2 separate regions of the Homo sapiens genome follow, and region 1 is linked to region 2. A link means that fine-mapping ties the variant in region 2 to the expression of a gene that starts in the linked region. Tissue or cell type: whole blood. Region 2 holds a variant in brackets; the other region holds the start of a gene. All regions are shown on one strand. Distances are between the middles of the regions.

Region 1 (2,500 bases), 27 kb before region 2:
CTGGCCCCCCCGCTTTTTTTTTTCTTTAGAGATGGAGTCTCACACTGTCACCCAGGCTGGATTGGAGTACAGTGGCACGATCATAGCTCACTGCAGCCTCAAACCCCTGGGTTCAAGAGATCCTTCCACCATAGCCTCCCCAGTAGCTGGGACTACAGACATGTGTCATTACATCTGGCTAGTTTTATTTATTTTCTATTTTTTTATTTTTTATAGAGACAGGGTCTCGCCATGTTGCCAAGGCTGGTCTCAAACTCCTGGGCTCAAGTGATTCTCCCACCTCGGCCTCGCAAAGTGCTGGGATTACAGGCATGAGCCACCGCACCCGGCCAGGACTGGGTGCATTTTGAGTCCCCGGGATAGACATGCTAATGTGCTTACCTATGTGTTTCACACCATCCATGATTGACCGAAAGAACTTGCGGACCCGGTCAGCCACCTCTTTGGTCTTCCGGGCAATAGCTTTAATCTTGTTCAGGGCACCTGATGGGTGAGGGACAGAGGCACTTTGGAGTCTTCTCCTCTAGGGGCTGGTTCTCACCATTGCCCCTTAAGCAGGGAGTAGAGAGGAGGCCACCATTTCCAGAGGCGGGAAGCCTGGATTCTGGGGCCTGGGAGATCGTTAATCTGGGAGTGGAGGAGGCCAGAGAGCAAGGAGAGAGGGTTTAGCTGTGCCCAGAGTCCCTTCCAGGCCCAGATGCTCCGCGATTAGCACCAGCAGAGAAGGAGGCCAAAGGACTGTAGAACATGCAGGATGAGGGGGGCGAGGGGGGCCCGTGGGAGACAGTGGTAGAGGTGGGGGACTTACTGACAAGAGGTTGCTTGGCCCTCTGTAGCACTTCGGCGGTCTGGTTCAGGGCCAGCTCTGCCCCACAGGCTACAGCCTCGCTGGCCCGGGTGAAGTTGCGTAGAGTGTTGGCACAAGGCCCTTGAAGCACCAACCCAAAAGCAGCCACCAACAGTAGTGTCCGGCCCTGCCCTGGGGGCGACAGCTTTGTTAGAACCAAGACCCCAGCCCCAAACATGGCAGCAAGTCCCTTACATAAGCCTTCAGAATATTTCCCTTAACCCCTGCCTCTCCTCCAGCATCTCTTCTGCCCCAGCACCAGCCCCAGGACCTGCCCCCTAGCCCTGGGTGCCAAGCTCACTGGAGAAGGCCTGAGGCAGCAGCAGGAGGACAGTGGCTCGGACCTGGCGAGAGAATCCCATGCCCAGGCTAAGGAAGGCAGCCAAAGTGAGGGTGCCCACCAGGCAACCCCAGGGGCTGTGGCCTTCCACCAGTAGCTCCAGAAGCCCGTAGGCCGTGGCTAAAGACAAGCCCAGGGTAAAACCTCCCACGCTGCGAACCACAGCTCTCGCCATGCTAGGCTCCTCTCCCCCCAAGGGGTGCACAACATCCTTCATGACTTTGGGCATGGCTGCTGAGACCAAATGTCTGCCTGTCTCCAGGAGATGCCCGCTGACTTCTGTGCTCCTGGAATTTCTCACCGTATTCTAAGGTTCCAAAGGGCTTTCACTGCATATGTCTTGGAATCCTTGACCCAGTTCCGAGGACTGGAGAGGGGATAGGTAGGTCTCTAATCTCCTTCCCCACTTCTCGGAGCAGAAGGATTAAAAGGCCCAGAGCTCAGGCCTAGGCTTCCCATGAAGCGGAAGAGACAGGCAGCACCTCTCTTCTCTCACCAGAACCTTGTGTCCAAGGAGGTCCTTCAGGAGACCTGGGATGAGTGGTGCTTCCCCAAAACAGACTCATGGACATTAAACATCATCAGAATGGCACAAGAGGGCAAAGAAGAAAACAGCCTCATACCAGTGAGTCACTCAGCAGAGACCCAGTATCCCTTGACCTCCACTCTCATCCCATCTCTCCTCCTGGAACTCCTGCACACTATCCCCCAACTCGGTGTCCGCGCCTCCACCACCTCTCTGGTCTAGTGCCTCCCGCCTCCCAGCCCAGCCCTTGCCTTTGCTGTCCCTTACACCCATACCACTTCCTCAGGCTCCCTCATCCTCCTCCAGGGTCCCCTAAGTTCCTACTGTTTCACATGCCAGGTTTCCCCAGCCTCTATCCACCTGCAAGCCCTGAATCCTAATGAGCCCCATCCCAGGCAGAAGAGTGGGCTGTTGAGCTACCCTGTCCCCCTCTTAGCGGTGCAGAGGCTCCTGACCTGGGGGCTGCCAGTCTCCTGTAGCTGGTTCCTGTGGCGCCAGCCGGGCGAGTTTCCTGTCACTGCTCTCCTGCTGGGGGCAGGCGCTGGGGGGCTCCTGGCCATAGGTGAGTGTGGAAGCAGAAAGTTCGGGGTGGGCAGAGGCTGGACCAGGGCTAGGACCCATCTTTTGGCCTTTGGCTTGACCTTGTGCCCTTAGGTCTCTTTCAGCTCCTGGTGAACCCCATGAACATCTACGAAGAACAGAAGATTATGTTCTTGTACAGCTTGGTGGGTTAGTGCTGGGCAAAAGCCAGGAACACTCAAGCGGCCTGTGGAACACAGCGCCGTCC
Region 2 (2,500 bases):
TGCTCTGGTATGGATAAAGACCCTCCCTCCGGGCTGTCTCTACACACATACCCAGCACAACCCCCAGTTGTAGAAATCTGAGATCTTGAAAAGCTAGAGACAAGGAAATAGTTCCAGAGTGCAGAGCTCCTCATTGCTCGCCTTGTACCTCCTAGGTCTGTGACAGCAACAGGCACTGCTACTGTGAGGAGGGCTGGGCACCCCCTGACTGCACCACTCAGCTCAAAGGTAGCATGGGGGTGGGGGACAGGGGCAGCTGGGAGGGCAAAGCGTCTCATGCTTTATCTTGCCCCCTCGGCCCTCTCTTTCTGACCCCCCTTTGCTGCTGGTTCCCTGAGTCTGTGCCCCTTGAACCCTTCACTCTCCCTGATCACTTGACTTCACTCCCTGCCCCCTGCGCCTTCATGGATCTAGAGTTCTTAGCCCCGTCCTCCCTTAAACCTGACTTCCGCCCACAGCAACCAGCTCCCTGACCACAGGGCTGCTCCTCAGCCTCCTGGTCTTATTGGTCCTGGTGATGCTTGGTGCCAGCTACTGGTACCGTGCCCGCCTGCACCAGCGACTCTGCCAGCTCAAGGGACCCACCTGCCAGTACAGGTATGAGCATCACCTCCCTGCTACCACTTCCTTCAACTGGGGACAGTGCTGAAGGCTGCCTCACCTCTGCAGCCCCTGCCACCTGGTTCTGAGCCCCAGGCCCCTTGGACCTTAAAGTTGCTGACTGCCATACCCCACACCTCCCTTCCCTATATGTGCCCACAGCTTTTTACCTCACAGCTGTGCCCCTGTGGGGTGGCTGGATTGCTAGGGCCATTTCTCCCCAGGAGCCCCTGTGCTGGATAAGTAGGGTCTTCCCTCAAGCTAATAAATACTGCCCCCCACCCCGGCCCTACCACAATTTTACCTAAACCACACATAAGTGCCTGCAAAGGGTTAACCCCACTCAGGGATGGCATATGGTAGAAAACAGGGTCTGAGGCTGGGCCCTCTCCCTTCTTGCCTTTCCTCATGCATAGGGCAGCCCAATCTGGTCCCTCTGAACGGCCAGGACCTCCGCAGAGGGCCCTGCTGGCACGAGGCACTAAGGTGAGTCCTGGATGCCAGAGGAAGGGGACTCCACCTTGGCCGGGCATCCAGCTTGGGCCCTGGGGGGTGCGCATTAAAGGCTCCAGACTCAGAGAAAGGCTAGCACTGCCCAAGAGTCAGTCGAAGGAGTCAGGGCCAGCCCTGCCCTCCCCTCCCCTGGCTACAGGCAGGGAAGCTGAGTCCAGAAGAGTGGGGAGGGCAGCCAGCTGGAGCAGGAGCTGCTGGGCTCCGTCCGCTGGCCAAGAGGTGGCTTTGAGAGGTGG[A/G]TCTATCCATGCCCCCAGCAGTGACCCCAGGAGGGCACAAGGGCAGTGGTGCTCAGAATGGCCTTCCGTAGGCCCAGGTCACCATGTTAGAAGGGCTGGTGAGCATCCCCACCCTGAGCCCTCTGCTTGGATGATGGGAGTGTGTGCACACCTCCTCCCCACTCGCTCCCCACCTGCATGCACCTGCATAACTGCATGCACAGCACCCACTGCCCTGGGCCCCTGCTGGCCCCCCCTGGGCACTGACCCTTCCCTGCCCACTCTGTCTCTCTGCTTCCTCTTCCCCCTCTGTGCCTATCTGCCCCTCCTGCCCTCTCAGCAGGCTAGTGCTCTCAGCTTCCCGGCCCCCCCTTCCAGGCCGCTGCCGCCTGACCCTGTGTCCAAGAGACTCCAGGTAAATCTGGGCCAGGGCCCGCCCTGAGCCAAGGCAGGTGGGAGGCTTGGTACCCAACTGCAGTTCTCATCCCTGCTCCCTGCCAGTGGTGCTCTTCATTAGGTGATCGGGGTGCCCCTCAGCCTTCAGACACTCTGAGCCCCAGAAGCAGCAAAGGGTGAGCCTCCTGCCTTGGTTTCTACCACCATCTGGTGGTCAATGGCGGGACTGCAGTCGGCCAGGGACTGCGGTTGACCTACACCTTCCTCCCCTGAGACATCAGCTGGCATGCCTCCAAGCCCTCTGCGCATGCCCTCATTCTCTCCTGCCCCCTGGCTGACTTTGCATGTTGACTTGAACCCCTCTGGGGAATCTCTGTGCATGTCCACAGCCCCTGGTTATGCTCTCACAGCCACTGCCCCTCTCTCTGTTCAGGCTGAGCTGGCTGACCGACCCAATCCCCCTACCCGCCCTCTGCCCGCTGACCCGGTGGTGAGAAGCCCGAAGGTAACGGTGGGGGGAGAGAAGGGCACGGCCTCTCCCCCCACCTAGGGCTGTGGTGCTGGTAGCCATGACGGTGGTGGCCGTGGCGAGATGCCCCCTCAGTGCATGAGGGCACATATCCCGGTGGTGCCTTTAATGGTGACAGGTTTGTTTGCAGACAAGGGTGACCGCTGGTGCTGCCCCCAAGCTGGTGTTCCCCAGCACCAGTGCGTTGGGGGTGGGCAACATGACACCCCCCCACCTAAGCCGGCCTCCTGCCTTCTCTCCCTCAGTC

Evidence for each region. PIP is the estimated chance that this variant, and not a neighbour inherited with it, causes the effect.
Region 1: DCST2 starts here. The variant in region 2 is fine-mapped to the expression of DCST2 in whole blood (TOPMed, PIP 0.96).

Annotation. Positions count from the first base shown.
Region 1 is chr1:155,032,286-155,034,785 of GRCh38, forward strand. DCST2 (DC-STAMP domain containing 2) reads right to left here and starts at 1,496. Exons shown (of 15, transcript NM_144622.3): 1 at 1,149-1,496; 2 at 809-979; 3 at 382-483. The coding sequence starts at 1,416. It overlaps DCST1 (DC-STAMP domain containing 1), which reads left to right and starts at 1,539. Exons shown (of 17, transcript NM_152494.4): 1 at 1,539-1,569; 2 at 1,687-1,812; 3 at 2,150-2,275; 4 at 2,368-2,442. The coding sequence starts at 1,752.
Region 2 is chr1:155,059,747-155,062,246 of GRCh38, forward strand. ADAM15 (ADAM metallopeptidase domain 15) reads left to right here. Exons shown (of 23, transcript NM_207197.3): 17 at 156-228; 18 at 459-597; 19 at 1,017-1,086; 20 at 1,669-1,743; 21 at 2,158-2,229; 22 at 2,499-2,500. The region is part of intron 1 of DCST1-AS1 (DCST1 antisense RNA 1); the gene reads right to left. It overlaps ADAM15-EFNA4 (ADAM15-EFNA4 readthrough), which reads left to right. Exons shown (of 26, transcript NR_176418.1): 17 at 156-228; 18 at 459-597; 19 at 1,017-1,086; 20 at 2,499-2,500. Among named protein-coding and RNA genes, the nearest start is that of EFNA4, 2.7 kb to the right of the region's middle. The variant A/G (reference allele first, on the strand shown) is at 1,350.